Regions from separate parts of the Homo sapiens genome. Here region 1 is linked to region 2. The links come from fine-mapping of genetic effects on gene expression. Tissue or cell type: whole blood. Region 2 holds a variant in brackets; the other region holds the start of a gene. All regions are shown on one strand. Distances are between the middles of the regions.

What was found. PIP is the estimated chance that this variant, and not a neighbour inherited with it, causes the effect.
Region 1: it holds the start of MRPS25, and the variant in region 2 is fine-mapped to the expression of MRPS25 in whole blood (TOPMed, PIP above 0.99).

What each region holds. Positions count from the first base shown.
Region 1 is chr3:15,060,359-15,068,462 of GRCh38, reverse strand. MRPS25 (mitochondrial ribosomal protein S25) reads left to right here and starts at 3,148. Exons shown (of 4, transcript NM_022497.5): 1 at 3,148-3,402. The coding sequence starts at 3,269. RefSeq lists an enhancer at 2,989-3,168.
Region 2 is chr3:14,985,769-14,993,872 of GRCh38, reverse strand. The region is part of intron 1 of NR2C2 (nuclear receptor subfamily 2 group C member 2); the gene reads right to left. Among named protein-coding and RNA genes, the nearest start is that of FGD5-AS1, 41 kb to the right of the region's middle. The variant T/G (reference allele first, on the strand shown) is at 3,741.

The sequences.
Region 1 (8,104 bases), 75 kb before region 2:
CACGCCTGTAATTCCAGCACTTTGGGAGGCCAAGGTGGGCAGATTGCTTGAGCCCGGGAGTTCAAGACCAGTCTGGGCAATATAGCAAAACCTCATCTTTACAAAAAATACAAAAATTAACCAGGCATTGTGGCACATGCCATAGTCCAAGCTACTCGGGGCTGAGGTGGGAGAATTGCTTGAGCCTGGGAAGTAGAGGCTGCAGTGAGCTGTGATTGCGCCACTGTACTGCGCTCTAGCCTGGGTGATAGAGCAAGACACTGCCTCAAAAAAAAAAAAAAAAAAGAAAAAGAAAAAAAAAGGAAAGAACACTTGTGTAGGTCACAGCCCAAGGACACAAGCCCACTAAAATGCTGAGATTTAATCGTAAGATTATAGAATGCTTCACCTCCCCCATGTTTTTCCACCACATCAACAGGACTCCAGGATAGTAACAGTGAATTATACCTGGAAGAGCTGCAAGACACGGACTCTCTCAGGAGGAATATCGAGGGAAGCCCAAAGGCAAGAGGAGATAAACACAAAGACACTAGAGGAACTGGAAGCCTCTGACACCTACAGCTATGGCAAACATTAAACACAGCTCTCAACTCTGAGCCAGATTAACATAAGTTCTCATTCTAGAGGCTTATTTACCCCAGTTCCTATGGCCCAATAGAGTGGATATTCTACCTTCAACAAAAAAATTATAAGCATGCTAAAAGGCAAGGAAAAAAATAAACCCAACAATCAGATGAAACAAAGCAAACATCAGAATCACACTCAGATATTGGAATTATCAGACAAGAAATTTAAAATGTGGTCTGTTAAGGGGTCTAATGGTAAAAGTAAACAACATACAAGAACAGATGGGTAATGTAAACAGACATAAGAAAACTAAGAATCATGCGAGGTGTGGTGGTTCACACTTGTAATCCCAGCAGTTTGGGAGGCTGAGGCAGGCAGATCACTTGAGGTCAGGAGTTTGAGACCAGCCAGGCCAACAAGGTGAAACCCCATCTCTACTAAAAATACAAAAATTAGACTGGGCACAGTGGCTCATGACTGTAATCACAGCACTTTGGGAGGCCAATGCGGGTGGATCACGAGGTCAGGAGTTCAAGACCAGCCTGGCCAACATGGTGAAACCCTGTCTCTACTAAAAATACAAAAACTAGCTGGGTGTGGTGGTGGGCACCTGTAATCTCAGCCACTTGGGAGGCTGAGGCAGGAGAATCATTTGAACCTGGGAGGCAGAGGTTGCAGTGAGCCAAGATAGTGCCATTGCACTCCAGCCTGGGTGACAGAGCGAGACTTCGTCTCAAAAAAAAAAAAAAAAAAAATTAGCCAGGCATGGTGGTGTGCACCTGTAGTCCCAGCTAAGTGGCAGAGGTGGGAGAATTGCTTGAGCCCAGGAGGTAGAGGTTGCAGTGAGCAGAGATTGCACCAGTGCACTCCAGGCTGGGTGACAGAGACTTTGTCTCAAAACAAACAAACAAACACCCTAAGAATCAAAAGGAAGTGCTAGAAGTTAAAACCTTAAATGAAAAATGCCTTAATGGGCTTATCAGTAGACTGTCCATAACCAAAGATTAAATGAATTTGAAGATAGGTCAACAGAAACTTCCCCACTAAAATGCAAAGAGAACCTCCATCACCCCGCCAGAACATTCGAGAACTATGAGGCAATTCCAGAAGACATAAAATGCATTTAACTTGAATACTAGAAAGAGAAAAGAGTGAAGAATAAATACCTGAACTAATAAATGGCTAAGAACTTTACAAAATTAATGACAGACATGAAATCACAGATCCAGGAGGCTCAGAGGACTCCAAGCAGGACAAATACAAAACATCTACAGATCTGCATTACCTTATTCTAACCCCGTAAACCAAACACCAAGAGAAAATTTGAAAGAAGCTAAAGGAAAAAGCCATCATACCTATAAATGTAATTGCATTTAATTACTTGTTTGAAACCATGCAAGCAAAAAAAGAGTGGAGTGAACTATTTAAATTGTTGAAAGAAAAACACCAGGGCCAGGCGCAGTGGCTCACGCCTGTAATCCCAGCACTTTGGGAAGCTGAGACGGGCGGATCATCTGAGGTCAGGAGTTTGATACCAGCCTGACCAACATGGAGAATCCCCGTCTCTACTGACAATACAAAATTAGCTGGGTGTAGTGGCGCATGCCTGTAAGTCCGGCTACTCGGGAGGCTGAGGCAGGAGAATCACTTGAACCTGGGAGGCGGAGGTTGCGGTGAGCCAAGATAGCACCATTGCACTCCAGAAGGGAGGGAGGGAAAGGAAAAACACTAACCTAGAATTCTAAATCTGGCAAAATCACTCTTCAAAAGAGAAGGAGAAATACCTTTCAGATCAAGAGTACTTCAGAAATGTATCTTTTTTTTTTTTGAGAGGGAGTCTTGCTCTGTCGCCCAGGCTGGAGTGCAGTGGCGCGATCTCGGCTCACTGCAACTTCCCGGGTTCGAGCGATCCTCCCACCTCAGTCTTCTGAGTAGCTGGGACCACAGGTGCTGCCACCACACCAGGCTAATTTTTGTATTTTCAGTAGAGACGGGGTTTCGCCATGTTGGGCAGGCTGGTCTCGAATTCCTGACCTCAAGCGATCCTTCCGCCTCGGCTTCCCCAAAGGCTGGGTTTACAGGCGGGAGCCACCGCGCCTGGCCCTAGAAATACATCTCACCCATAGTTTGTTTACGAAAAAATTGAGGTCCTGAGTTAAGTGGCTGAATTTAGGAAGGAATTGATCCCAAACCATCTTTTTTTCTTTTGCTAAGAAGTTTAAGTCAACGTCAGAAAGTGCAGTTTGAACTCTTCATGATAAAACTGGAGATGTTTGGGGAGAAAAATGGACAATACGTTCAATAGGACGTTATCAGCTGACTTGGTATCCAAACTGAGCTTTCCTGATTATTTCTTATTGCAATGTCTGACTTTTAGCCTATGTAAAAATATTTTCCCGTGGGTGGATGGGGAAATGACTAATTTACAGGACGCGACAACCTAAACCTTCCAAGGGGAAGGCGTCCTAAAGCGAAGCTGCACACACCGGTTCTCGCCGCGCCGGGTCGAAGGCCGCCTACAAGTCCCAGAGTGCTCCGCGGCGTGCGCTGCCCGCCGGGAAGCGTCTCCTGTGCGTCTGCGCGGGAAGTGGAACCTGGCTCTGGGGAGAAGCCGCGTGAGATCCGCGCGGGTGCTAGCTAGTCCTTTCTCGTCGCTGCTCGGCTCGCGGCCCGTGGGGTCGGCCCCGCCACCGTTGCCGCCATGCCCATGAAGGGCCGCTTCCCCATCCGCCGCACCCTGCAATATCTGAGCCAGGGGAACGTGGTGTTCAAGGACTCCGTGAAGGTCATGACAGTGAATTACAACACGCATGGGGAGCTGGGCGAGGGCGCCAGGTCAGTCGCAGCCCCGGCCGCCTGGCGAGCCGTAACCTGCTAGTCGTGCCAGCCTGCTGGTAACGTGAGGTCCCGAGTCGCTCTGGGCGGCCGTTCATCCCCGGGGCGGGCCCCCCAGGTCGGCGCTGTTACCCCCATTTTACAGAGGTCCAGACTGAGGCGGACGGCGGGGCCCCCGCCGGGCCGGCTGCAGTCGTGACGAGGTTTGGGGGGCGGAGGACAAGAACCCCACTCCTGGATCTCCTTCCTCCGGCGCGGTGGGCGAGGCTGACCCGAGGGAGGCCACCAGTTCCCTTGGCCCCTCTGGCCAGCAAGGCAAGCGCTGGGGAGGGGCAGCCGCAGATCCTTTCGGGGTGACGGGGGTGACACCCCAGGACGAATCTGAGGATAAAATGAGAGAAATAACAGCGGCGAACACTGATCATATCTCGCACAGTTCTGAATGCTTCTCGCGCTTTCTTTTTTCTGATGCCTAGAGAAACCCCAGCTTATCCCCACTCTAAGGCTGGGGAAGCGCACAGAGAGGTTAAGTAACTTGCAGCTCCACGAGACACCATGCCAGCCGGTGAGCGGTGAGCCGGGCAGTGTGGCCGCTTCCTTCGGGACTCAAGGTTTGGAAGGAAGTGATTAATTATGTCAGCTGTGCAGCGGCAGACCCTACCCCGACTAGAAGGAACTGTAGGGAACGCCTAGGATGTCTTTCAGCTTGGAGCAGAGTAGGGACTCATTGAATGGCAGTTGGCAAGTGAAAGGTTTGGATTGACCCTGAGGCAGCCCTAAGCAGTGCCTTAGGCTCTGCAGGTATGAAGTCTACATTTATTGAGTACACTCTGAGTGCTAGGCTGTGTGCTGTGTGCTGGGAGTTCAGCAGTGATGGAGGAGGCAGCCTTAGCCCGCAGAAACTTTGGGACTTGGGTGTATGTTGGATCAAAATGAGGCGTGGGGGCGGGGAGCAACTTCTTGTGGGGCATGGTCCCCTTGGTGACGGACCTTCACTGCATGGCCCTTCAAGAGATCCGGAAGCCGCTTCCTAGCCATTTGCTCTGCGCAGGTGAATCTGATAACTTGGACCTGCTTGCCTGGAATCAGCTGGCTTGATGGCTTCCTGGAAGACTTGGTCTTGGTCTTAGGGTGTATGGGCACCCAGATACTCCTTCATAACCTACTGCACAACTGTGCACACCTTTGTCCCCGGGCAACTGCCAGGCAGATAATGGGAAGGGGTGGGGGTCTCGGTGCGGCCCGCAGCGAGCTGGAGAGCACATGCCCTATCCAGAGGGCCCTTCACTGTTTGGCATTGTGGGCTCCGTGGAGAATTTCTCATTTGTCAAGAAGCTGAAATCTAGGTTTTTATGTAAATCTCTGGCTTTTAAATGGCCAGCCAATCAAAATAAGCCTGTGAGCCTCTTACTTACATTCTCAGATATTTTAATGTCCTCTAGGTAAATGGGATACAAACAGCCATTCACTGTTTCTTTGTTCCTGGTGGTAGGGGCTGGCCTGTGCCACCTGTGCCCTCTGTGATCTTGTACCCGTGGGTTGGAGTCTGTCTGCCTTGCTCTGGCTAGCCGCAGTCCTCCCCCAATCCCCAGCCCTTGTTTGTTCATGTGCCCTCAGCCCTTCAGCTGCCCCACTGGGACCTACCTCCATCCCAAGTGCCTGCGACCGGTCCAGCCAGTCTTTGGGTACCTGCTGGGGGCAATGGGAAGGTGCCTTATTTAGTATTTGAGGGCCAAGTCCTTACTCACCTCTGCCAGGTGTTCTACCCTGAACAAGTGGTCCCCAAGCCTCAGGGTGAATTTGATGGTGACAGAACAGTGTGATCGAAGGCCAGACTAATCAGCCCAGTTAGACCTGGGGCAGTTTACTTAACTTCTGACCTTAGTTTCCTTAAATTGTAAAACCCCACCTTCTGGGGTTGGAGAGTCAGGTGCCTAGCAAAGTGTCTGGCATATACAGCAGTTGCTCAACTCAAGGTTCCTGCCATTATTAACTTTCTTTTTTTTTTTTTTTCAATTGATCATTCTTGGGTGTTTCTCGCAGAGGGGGATTTGGCAGGGTCATAGGACAATAGTGGAGGGAAGGTCAGCAGATAAACAAGTGAACAAAGGTCTCTGGTTTTCCTAGGCAGAGTGTTTGTGTCCCTGGGTACTTGAGATTAGGGAGTGGTGATGACTCTTAACGAGCATGCTGCTTTCAAGCATCTGTTTAACAAAGCACATCTTGTACCGCCCTTAATCCATTTAACCCTGAGTGGACACAGCACATGTTTCAGAGAGCACAGGGTTGGGGGTAAGGTCACAGATCAACAGGATCCCAAGGCAGAAGAATTTTTCTTAGTACAGAACAAAATGAAAAGTCTCCCATGTCTACCTCTTTCCACACAGACACGGCAACCATCCGATTTCTCAATCTTTTCCCCACCTTTCCCCCCTTTCTATTCCACAAAACTGCCATTGTCATCATGGCCCGTTCTCAATGAGCTGTTGGGCACACCTCCCAGATGGGGTGGTGGCCGGGCAGAGGGGCTCCTCACTTCCCAGTAGGGGCGGCCGGGCAGAGGCGCCCCTCACCTCCTGGACGGGGCGGCTGGCCGGGCAGGGGGCTGACCCCCCCCACCTCCCTCCCGGATGGGGCGGCTGGCCGGGCGGGGGGCTGACCCCCCACCTCCCTCCCGGACGGGGCGGCCTGGCCGGGCAGAGGGGCTCCTCACTTCCCAGTAGGGGCGGCCCGGGCAGAGGCGCCCCCTCACCTCCTGGACGGGGCGGCTGGCCGGGCGGGGGGCTGACCCCCTGACCTCCCCTCCCGGACCGGGCGGCTGGCCCGGGCCAGAGGGGCTCCTCACTTCGCATTAGGGGCGGCAGGCAGAGGTGCCCCTCACCTCCCAGTACGGGGCGGCTGGCCGGGCGGGGGGCTGACCCGCCGCACTCCCTCCCGGATGGGGCGGCTGGCCGGGCGGCTGAGCCCCCTACCTCCCTCCCAGACGGGGCGGCTGGCCTGGCGGGGGCTGACCCCCAACTCCCTCCCGGACGGGGCGGCTGCCGGGCGGAGACGCTCCTCACTTCCCAGACGGGGCGGCTGCCGGGCGGAGGGGCTCCTCACTTCTCAGACGGGGCGGCTGCCGGGCGGAGGGGCTCCTCACTTCTCAGACAGGGCGGCTGCCGGGCGGAGGGTCTCCTCCCTTCTCAGACGGGGTGGCTGGGCAGAGATGCTCCTCACCTCCCAGACGGGGTCGCGGCCGGGCAGAGGCGCTCCTCACATCCCAGATGGGGCGGCGGGGCAAAGGCGCTCCCCACATCTCAGACGATGGGCGGCCGGGCAGAGACGCTCCTCACTTTCCAGGCTGGGCAGCCAGGCAGAGGGGCTCCTCACATCCCAGATGATGGGCGGCCAGGCAGAGACGCTCCTCACTTCCCAGACGGGGTGGTGGCCGGGCAGAGGCTGCACTCTGGACACTTTGGGAGGCCAAGGCAGGCGGCTGGGAGGTGGAGGCTATAGCGAGCCGAGATCATGCCACTGCACTCCAGCCTGGGCACCATTGAGCACTGAGTGAACCAGACACCGTCTGCAATCCCGGCACCTCTGGAGGCCGAGGCTGGCGGATCACTCGCGGTTAGGAGCTGGAGACCAGCCCGGCCAACACAGCGAAACCCCGTCTCCACCAAAAAAATACGAAAACCAGTCAGGCGTGGCAGCGCGCGCCTGCAATCGCAGGCGCTGGGCAGGCTGAGGCAGGAGAATCAGGCAGGGAGGTTGCAGTGAGCCGAGATGGCAGCAGTACAGTCCAGCTTCGGCTCGGCATCAGAGGGAGACCGTGGAAAGAGGGAGAGGGAGACCGTGGGGAGAGGGAGACGGAGAGGCAGAGGGAGAGAGAGAGGGACTTAACTTTCATCTTGTGTTTCAGCAAGAACCATTTTAAGATCTCTGTTGCATTTCTGTCCTAGTAGTTTAAAGTATGGGAACGTCTCACCTGGCTATGTCCTAGTTTATTTGTAAAAAGTTCTGTGACACTGGGATACTCTGCAGTGGGGTGGGAACTGATCAGAGGCCTGCTACGCCCTGGAAGGTAAATTCAGCCTTTGAGCTCCCAGGTCTGTGTGCTGTGAGGGTCTCCAAGGCCTCTATTCCTCCCCTAGAGGCAGCAGTTTTCAAGGCTTAACTATTTATTTATTTATTTTTTGAGATGGAGTCTTGCTCTGTCACCCAGGCTAGAGTGCAGTGGCGCGATCTCGGCTCACTGCAAGCTCTGCCTCCTGGATTCACACCATTCTCCTGCCTCAGCCTCCTGAGTAGCTGGGACTACAAGTGCCCGCCACCACGCCGGCTAATTTTTTGTATTTTTAGTAGAGACGGCATTTCACCGTGTTAGCCAGGATGGTCTCGATCTCCTGACCTCGTGATCCACCCGCCTCGGCCTCCCAAAGTGCTGGGATTACAGGCATGAGCCACCGCGCCCGGCGGCTTAACTATTTAATTTGAGTCTTATACCCATATAGTTAAATAACATCCTCAGAGAGCCACTTTTCTTTTTTTTTTTTTTTTTTTGAGAGAGGACCTTGCTCTGTCGCCTAGACTGGAATGTGGTGCAATCACAGCTCTGGCTCACTGCAACCTCAAACTCCCGGGCTTAAGCGATCCTCTTGCCTCAGCCTCCCAAGTAGCTGGGACCACCAGCATGTACCACTATGCCCAGCTAATTTTT
Region 2 (8,104 bases):
ACCTGTTCAGGGATACATCTGCAAATTTTATTTATTCCCTTGATATGAGAAGCCCAAAAGACCTTTTACCTGAGAGGGGGCATGGGTCACACTGGCAATGGGCTCCCTGTAGGCTCAGTAATAAATTTAGATTGAGTGAATAGCCCTGAGATTCAGTGAAAAGACGACTAACTCTGGAAGTGACAGGTTAAACAGAAAATGTTTGGGATCCCCTACTCCTGAAGCCATTAGAAAAAAGGTATGTTCTAGTGGCACCAGAGGCAGCTGAGATATGGTCTTGCATGAAGGCAAAGTGATGTTATGATGGGACCGCTAAGAAATTCTTGCAGTTGTATGAATTTACAGTCTGATAATTATGAATAGACATCAAGGAAGGAAATTTACTTTTTTTCCAGAAACATTTCTTTTTTTTTTTTTTGAGATGGAGTTTTGCTCCTGTCGCCCAGGCTGGAGTGCAGTGATGCAGCTTCGGCTCACTGTAACCTCCGCCTCCCAGGTTCAAGCGATTCTCCTGCCTCAGCCTCCCGAGCAGCTGGGATTACAGGCACCCACCACCATGCCCGGCTAATTTTTGTATTTTTAGTAGAGACGGGGTTTCACCATGTTGGCCAGGCTGGTGTCGAACTCCTGACCTCAGGTGATCCGCCTGTCTTGGCCTCCCAAAGGGCTAGGACTACAGACGTGAGCCACCATGCTTGGCCTTTTTTCCCAGAAATATTTTATTGAGACTCATCAGCACAGCAATAAAAAGTCAGTTTGGTAAAAAGGATATAAAAATATTAGATGCATTTCTGACTAGTTGAAGCATTTCCTTTCTATTTTTTCCTGCCCACACCTCAGTGCCTAATGTCAGTCTTGGCTTCTGCCTTATCCTATTTTCTACCCTTTCAACCTGCTCAAGTTGCAAAGGACAGGATCACTTAGTTTACACTGTATAAATGCCTGACAACACCCAGGTGTGTGTTATACCTTGGTTAGGGCATTTTACCTTGACAGGAAAACTGCCAGTCCAAAGGACTCAATTAAAACCATGGGCAAGCTGGGTGTGAAATATCTTTAGACACAGGCCTTCCAAGGCTTGGTCTCCAAACTCATACTTAGAGGGTAAAATCATCTGTTCCATTTCACATCCTTTGTAAAGGTAACCACGCTTGCAGAACACACAAATGTTTTATTAAACACTAAATAATTTAATAAAAGCCATGCTCCTCTGGCCAGCCTTTCCTGACACCCCTCAGGTTAATACAAATGCCCTCCTCTGGGTTCCCACAGTCCCTGCACCTTAGTACTCTCCACAGAACACCACATTTCCTATTTCTCTGTTTATTCCCAAGGCCAGGCACATATTAGGCCCACAATGAATGCTTAGTGAATGAACACTTAGGGAATGAATACCTTAGGGGATGAATAAGCAGTCTCTGTCTTAAGCCTTTGATCCTGGGACTCTGCCTAGACTTTGCTTTGCTTTACTCTACTCTTGTGCCTGTCTGCTAATTACACACCCTGGAGGTACAGCACAACACCTGCCCTGGCAGTTCATTATATAAACCAAGGAGTACTGGCTTCCACCGACACAGGGGGGTTTATGAGGCTGCTGAGGAAGTTCATACATCTTCACCCTGGAATGAGAACCTCCTCTATTCCATAATGGCATGACATTGCTTTGGCAGCAGGGTTTTTGTTGTTGTTGTTTTTGTTGTTTGTTTGTTTTATAAGGAAATAATTGTCAGGAAAAATTTCTGACGTTTACATGGAATCACTTGCTGAAAAATGAACATCTAGGTTGAAGAAGATGCTCACAGGCCAGGTGCAGCGGCTCATGTCTATAATCACAGCAGTTTGGGAGGGCGAGGTAGGAAGATCACTTGAGGCCAGGAGTTTGAGTACCAGCCTGGACAGCATTGCAAGACCCCATCCCTACTAAAAATTAAAAACATTATCCAGGCGTGGTGTCGCATGCCTGCAGTCCCAGCTGCTTAGGAGGCTGAGGCGGAAGGAGCACTTGAGCTCAGGAGTTTGAGGCTACAGTGACAGTAAGCTATGATGGCACCACTGTGCTCCAGCCTTTGAGATAGCAAGACCCTATCTCCAAAAAAAAAAAAAAGAAAAAGAAAAAAAAAAAAGAAAAAAGGGATTAAAAAAGAGAAAAAGATGCTCATTTCATTGAATTAAATGTGCAATATTAAGAGTTTCCAAATCTATAACTTATTCTGGATTTTGGCTACAAAAATTCTCATGGGTTACTAATAGGATAACAGAGTTACACTCTGTGAAAAAACATTGTGCAGATCTAGTGTTACAAATCTCAAACAGGAACTCAGTACTTCTCAACACTTCAGTGAAATCATGAACAATGTAAAACCCTTAAGTAGGGTAAAGGGTGTTAGGCAGGGGACACCTCCAGCTTGAACTGAAATGTACCACATACCCTCCTTTAGTTTATTTCAAAGGACCATTAAATAGTAAGTGTGTTGAAGGGCCAATGGGCAAAGAGATTAACCCCCTTTGTGCAGCAACTTGCATCAGCGAGAAGAATCCACAGGAGGCTGCTGACTTTTATGTGCAGTTCCAGTCCTCAAAGGACTGGAACCTTACAATAACAGTGTTAGTAAAGAACTACTTCTCTTGATGACATATATATCCAGCTCTTCTTTACAGTAAAGCTAATGAGGGAATGAAACCTAAATATTATAAACCAGCATCATTTATATCAGAATTCATTAGCCAGTTTTGAATTTTACAGTTGGCAATAGAGATTTTAAAAAGGTAAAACTTAGCGCTAAATTTCTTGTCACAAAAAAACAAAAATCCCAAGTCAACAACCACTCCCCACAATTATGTAAAACAATGAGATATTTAAGAGCAATATGGTTCATAAACTGTTCACAGGCAGAGTAACCTGCCAAAAACAACAAACAACTTTTGCCCCACCTGAATTTAGCCAGCATATTCAAATACAAGTTCCTATTAAGAAACGATTTGCTAAGAGCTTAGCATAGCAAGACATTAAATTGAATTTCTTCAAATATACAATAGGTGTCTAAATCCACTGCTATTATACTAACTGCTGTAAAAATAAGTGACTACTGAAATACATTGCATTACAAGGCTTCTCCCCCAGAAACACAGGGAAAGAGAATAGACTTCAATACTGCAGTCTTGTTTTCTTTAGGACACTCACACTTACCATGCCAATGGCTCCCTGCAGCTTTATTTATATTTTTCCTCAGCAACCTCCCAGGCCAAAGAGAGTCCAACCCAAAAGGCCAGAGGTTGGTTGAGGGAACTCACAGGCATTTGCTTTCAAACCCTGCCAGTGCAGATTCCATTCACCCAAACCAGACAGGGCTGTTTAAAGATGCCCTCTCTGTGACCCAGCTCTGCGGAAGGTCAAGTACACTATCACTGCCTGTAACCAAGGAAGCAAAATCGACATGTTCCTGCTGTTTTGCCAGCTGCTGAAACAGTTTGTCTAATAATATGACTAATTGCTTCTAGGGAAGATGTACTCTGCTTTACAAAGTTCTCCCTTCACCTAGATTGCTGCCACTGTTAAACTCTCTCTCCCTCCACCCCTTTCCCCTTAAAGATCACCTTTCCTCAACTGAAAGTTCACAAGAATGTTACCATGGAGTCCAACCAACTCAAAACATTTTTAAACCTACAAGGAGAGGAGGAAAGACCTGGAGAGCCCAGAAACACCATGTTCTGCATATAGCATCTTCAACCTAACGGTGCAG[T/G]AATCTAATATTCTTCTTTTTATTAAATAAAGACAAGGTCTGGCTCTGTCACTCAGGCTGCAGTGCCAGTGGTGCAATCATGGCTCACTGCAGCCTTGACCTCCTGGGCTCAAGTGATCCTCCTGCCTCAGCCTCTCAGAGTAGCCAGGACTACAGGTATGTGCCACCACACCCAGTAATTTTTTTTTTTTTTTTTTTTTTTTTTTTTGAGATGGAGTCTTGCTCTTGTCGCCCAGGCTGGAGTGCAATCTCGGCTCACTGCAACCTCCATCTCCCAGGTTCAAGCGATTCTCTTATCTCCACCTCTCGAGTAGCTGGGATTACAGGTGCCTGCCACCACACCCTGCTAATTTTGTATTTTTAGTAGAGATGGGGTTTCACCATGTTGGCCAGGCTGGTCTCAAGCTCCTGACCTCATGTGATCTGCCTCCCTCAGCTTCCCAAAGCGTTGGGATTACAGGTCGTGAGCCACCACACCCAGTCAAATTTTTTCTTTAATTTAGTTTTTGTAGACACAGGGTCTTACTATGTTGCCCAGACTGATACCTGAACTCATGTGATCCTTCCACCTGGGCCTCTCAAAGCACTGGAATTACAGGTGTGAGCTACCATGCCTGGCCCTAATATTCTTAAAGATAGGAGGTCTTTACAAGTTCCTCTTTCACTTAAAGTGTAGGCAAGAATATATGGACTGTGTTACATAGAAAAGACCCACAAGAACAACAAAACTGGGCTCATTTAACCATATCCACCCAACACGCACCGGGCACATGAATACAAGATTGAGTTCTGGACTCAGAAGCCTCCCATTCTGGCAGGAAGATACGCAAATGTAGTCAGAGCAAATGAAGAACACTGTAATAGGTCCACAGAATGACTTCAACTCTAAGTCCCACCCCTTCCCCAAAGCCACTGAGGGGAGGGAGCTCCTGAAGTCACAGTGCATTAGTGGTGAGGCTGAAACTAACACCTAGGTTCTCTGGCTTTGAGACAAGAGCACCTGCCACTAAGGCAGGCTGTAGCCCCCTGATGGACATGGGGACTCATTACTTGGTTTTTATACCTCAACAACTGATATGAAGTGAATGCTGACCAATCAGCAAAAACAAAACAAAAGCCTAGGGGAAGAGTAGGAGAAAAGAGGTATTACGGATATTTACTTTTACATAGGGTGGAGAAGGAGGCTGAAAGAAAACATTTGAGAATAAATTCACACTGCTATAAATGATGAAATTTCCACTCCACACATACAAACAGAAGTTTGCATGTGCACTAACATAAAACAATTTATGGTGAAATAAATTCACCATATGTGATGAATGGATGAATATGTCATCCATTTTCAGATTCTAGCACAAACCCAGGCACCGCTATCTAAAAGAGAAAAAAAATTAATCAAGAGGGGAAAAAAAAGAGATGATGATTCTCCTTTGACTATAAGTCCCTTCACCTCAACAACTATTTAAAGTTCTAAGAAACAAAACACTCTATTCACTAAGTGAATAAGTACAGCCAATAAATGTGCTTTACGTATGTGTAAAAGGAAAGATTAATAAAGGAAGCAAAAAGTTCCAAGACTAAACCATTGAGGTCAAGAGATCTGGTCCTTCATCATCAGAATTTGCTCCTGCCCTCTGGCCTGATAATTATACTTCTGGGAACCCACGTTATATAAATTATCCTAAATATAGAAATGGCTTTATCAGTGTGTGGTCCTAAATTATTTTTCTAGGAAATATAAGAATTCCTTCTCCCAGTGGTTTGGGTGAGGCAGTGCCTCTCTCTACCTGTAAAAACAGACAATACCAGATATTTGCAGTCCTGCTTCCCTTGGAGGAGAGCAGGGGGTCAATAAGATTCACTGGTCTGAGAGACTTGGCACTGGAAGCTGGAGGTCCATCTCCAAGCTTTGTGGTACTGGCTGTACAGCCATAGCTTCACGAGACTGGCTCTGCAGTGTGATTCTGGGTGTTGTTCCAAGCTGCAGAGCTACTTCTCCAGTTCTTCCACTGTAAAGTTTACCTGTCTGTCTATATATACATCTGTCTGTCCATCTGTGCATCTTTTCATCCTCACATGAATATACTATTAATTTATAATACAGAAAGATCAAAAGCAATTTATATGTCCCAAACTAGGAGACGGGTTAGTAAATTATGCTATGTTTCCGGGATACAGAAAAATAATGATCAAAGCAGGTTATGTGGCAACCTGGGGAAAAGATGATATTTATTCTGTGTAATAACATTTTATAAAAACACAAGACACAAAGTTATATGCACACTGTGATTACAACCAGATGATATGCACGTGAGAAAAGAGCAAAAGATTTATTCATTCAATAAACGTATCTTGATTGCTCACTGTGTTCCAGGCACTGTATTTCAGGCACTGGGAACACAACAGCAAATGAAATAAAGTTCTGGTCTTCCTGGAATCTACATTCTAATGTGATAAACAAATTAAGTATATATGTTTGTAGATAATGAGAAGCATTATGGAGGAAGACAAGTACGAGTAAGGAGATTAAGAAGTGACAGAGGTAGAGGTGGAAATGACTATTTTTACATAGTGTGGTAATAAAGAAATTAACAACTTTTATAATTAAAAAAAACTTTCAAATACAAGGCTACCTTTTAAAACCAGCAAATATTGCTAGAAATTAGCAGTATGAATGATCTTATTTTCTACCCCACATCTGAAATTACTGGTGTTCTTCATATTTTTCTTCACTTTTAAAAGAAAAACTTGGCAGGGCATGGTGGCTCATACCTCTAATCCCAGCACTCTGCGAGGCCAAGGCGGAAGGATTGCTTACGCCCCGGAGTTCAAGACCATCCTGGGTAACACAGAGAGACCTCATCTCTACAAAAAATAAAAAAACCAGCTGGGTGTGGTGGCATGTGCCTGCAGTCCCAGCTACTTGGGAGGCTGAGGTGGGAGGATTGCTTGAGCCCAGGAGATTGAAATTGCAGTGAGCTGTGTTCCTGCCACTGGACTCCAGCCTGGGTGGCAGAGTGAGAATCTGCCTCAAATAAAATAAAAAATAAATAAAAACTCTTCTTACCCATCTAAGAAATAACACAGAAACTTTTTTTCTTGGTAAAATGAGGTATAAAAGTCTACTGTGAAACATAATTATCAGTCTCCTTGCCTATTAATTGCTACTAAAGATTTAAAAAAACTAGGCTGCTTCTGCAATTACAAAGCTAACCTGAATCATCCTGGTGGGCAGCTGATTACATGGAAACACACTACACTTAGAATTACGTTCACGTTTGGGTGGCACTCCTATTAACAATTTCCCTGAAGAAATCAAGTGCAATGCTCAACCTGTGACCCTGAATAAGATGTTATCTTCTCCCATAGCAGATGCTAATTTTTGATTTTTTATTCTGGTAGACAAAATGCTTTCATTTTCTAATTCTCTATTTTCTGTGACCAATAAAAGGATATGCTTTCCAAGGTCTTTTTTAAAGTATCAGACACTAAAGGTATACCTCAGACACAGATTTCAAGAAAGGAGATGTTCTCTATGACAGAATGTCATTACTCTGTGGCAAGACATACCGTAAGAAATCATTTTGGCACAACACTTCCACATAAGGTATGGATCTTTTGCAAGGACATCATCCTTCCTCAATTTTCTCCTTCTTAATAACTCCTCCTGTCAACCGTTTTTATCATAAGTAAGTCTAGTCTCACTTATTCTAACATTAATTCCATTTAACATTTATTCCAGCTGACTCTACATTTCATCTACAAAACAATTGTATCTTCTTAGTACCCTTATTTAAGTATGTACTTACTTAAGAAGTATGTGACTTGTCATATCATCTTTGGTAGTTATTCCTAAGCATTTACATGAAATACACATTATTTCATAATAGGCTGCTTTCCTTTTATTTCTCCTGAATATAATTATTATTATATATTGATTTTTGTAAGTTATTTGCATATGAATGCTTTTATTTTCTATGAGTATCACCTTGGTACAGTAAAAGGGTCTTTAAAAAAATACTGTTTAAAAAGGGGGCACTGAGTCTGAAGGAATTGGAAACCCCTAAGAGGAAGGTTCTCACAGTATGTACTCGATGCATACCTGCTGAATTAATAACTGATCTAGTTAATGGTGCTACTTCTTGCATATGAAGTTATGTGACTGTTAAAAAACTGTTGGGAAAAAAAAGAAAAACCCTTAGAAGACACACTTTGACCCAGATAGCTTTTAATTTCAAATTCTACTTCTAGTCTACAGAGATACTCCCACATATGAGCCCAAGGAGGCATATATAAAGATGTCCATCACTGTACTATTTATGCTTGAGAAAATCTGGAAAAAACTTAAATGTGCATCTAATTGG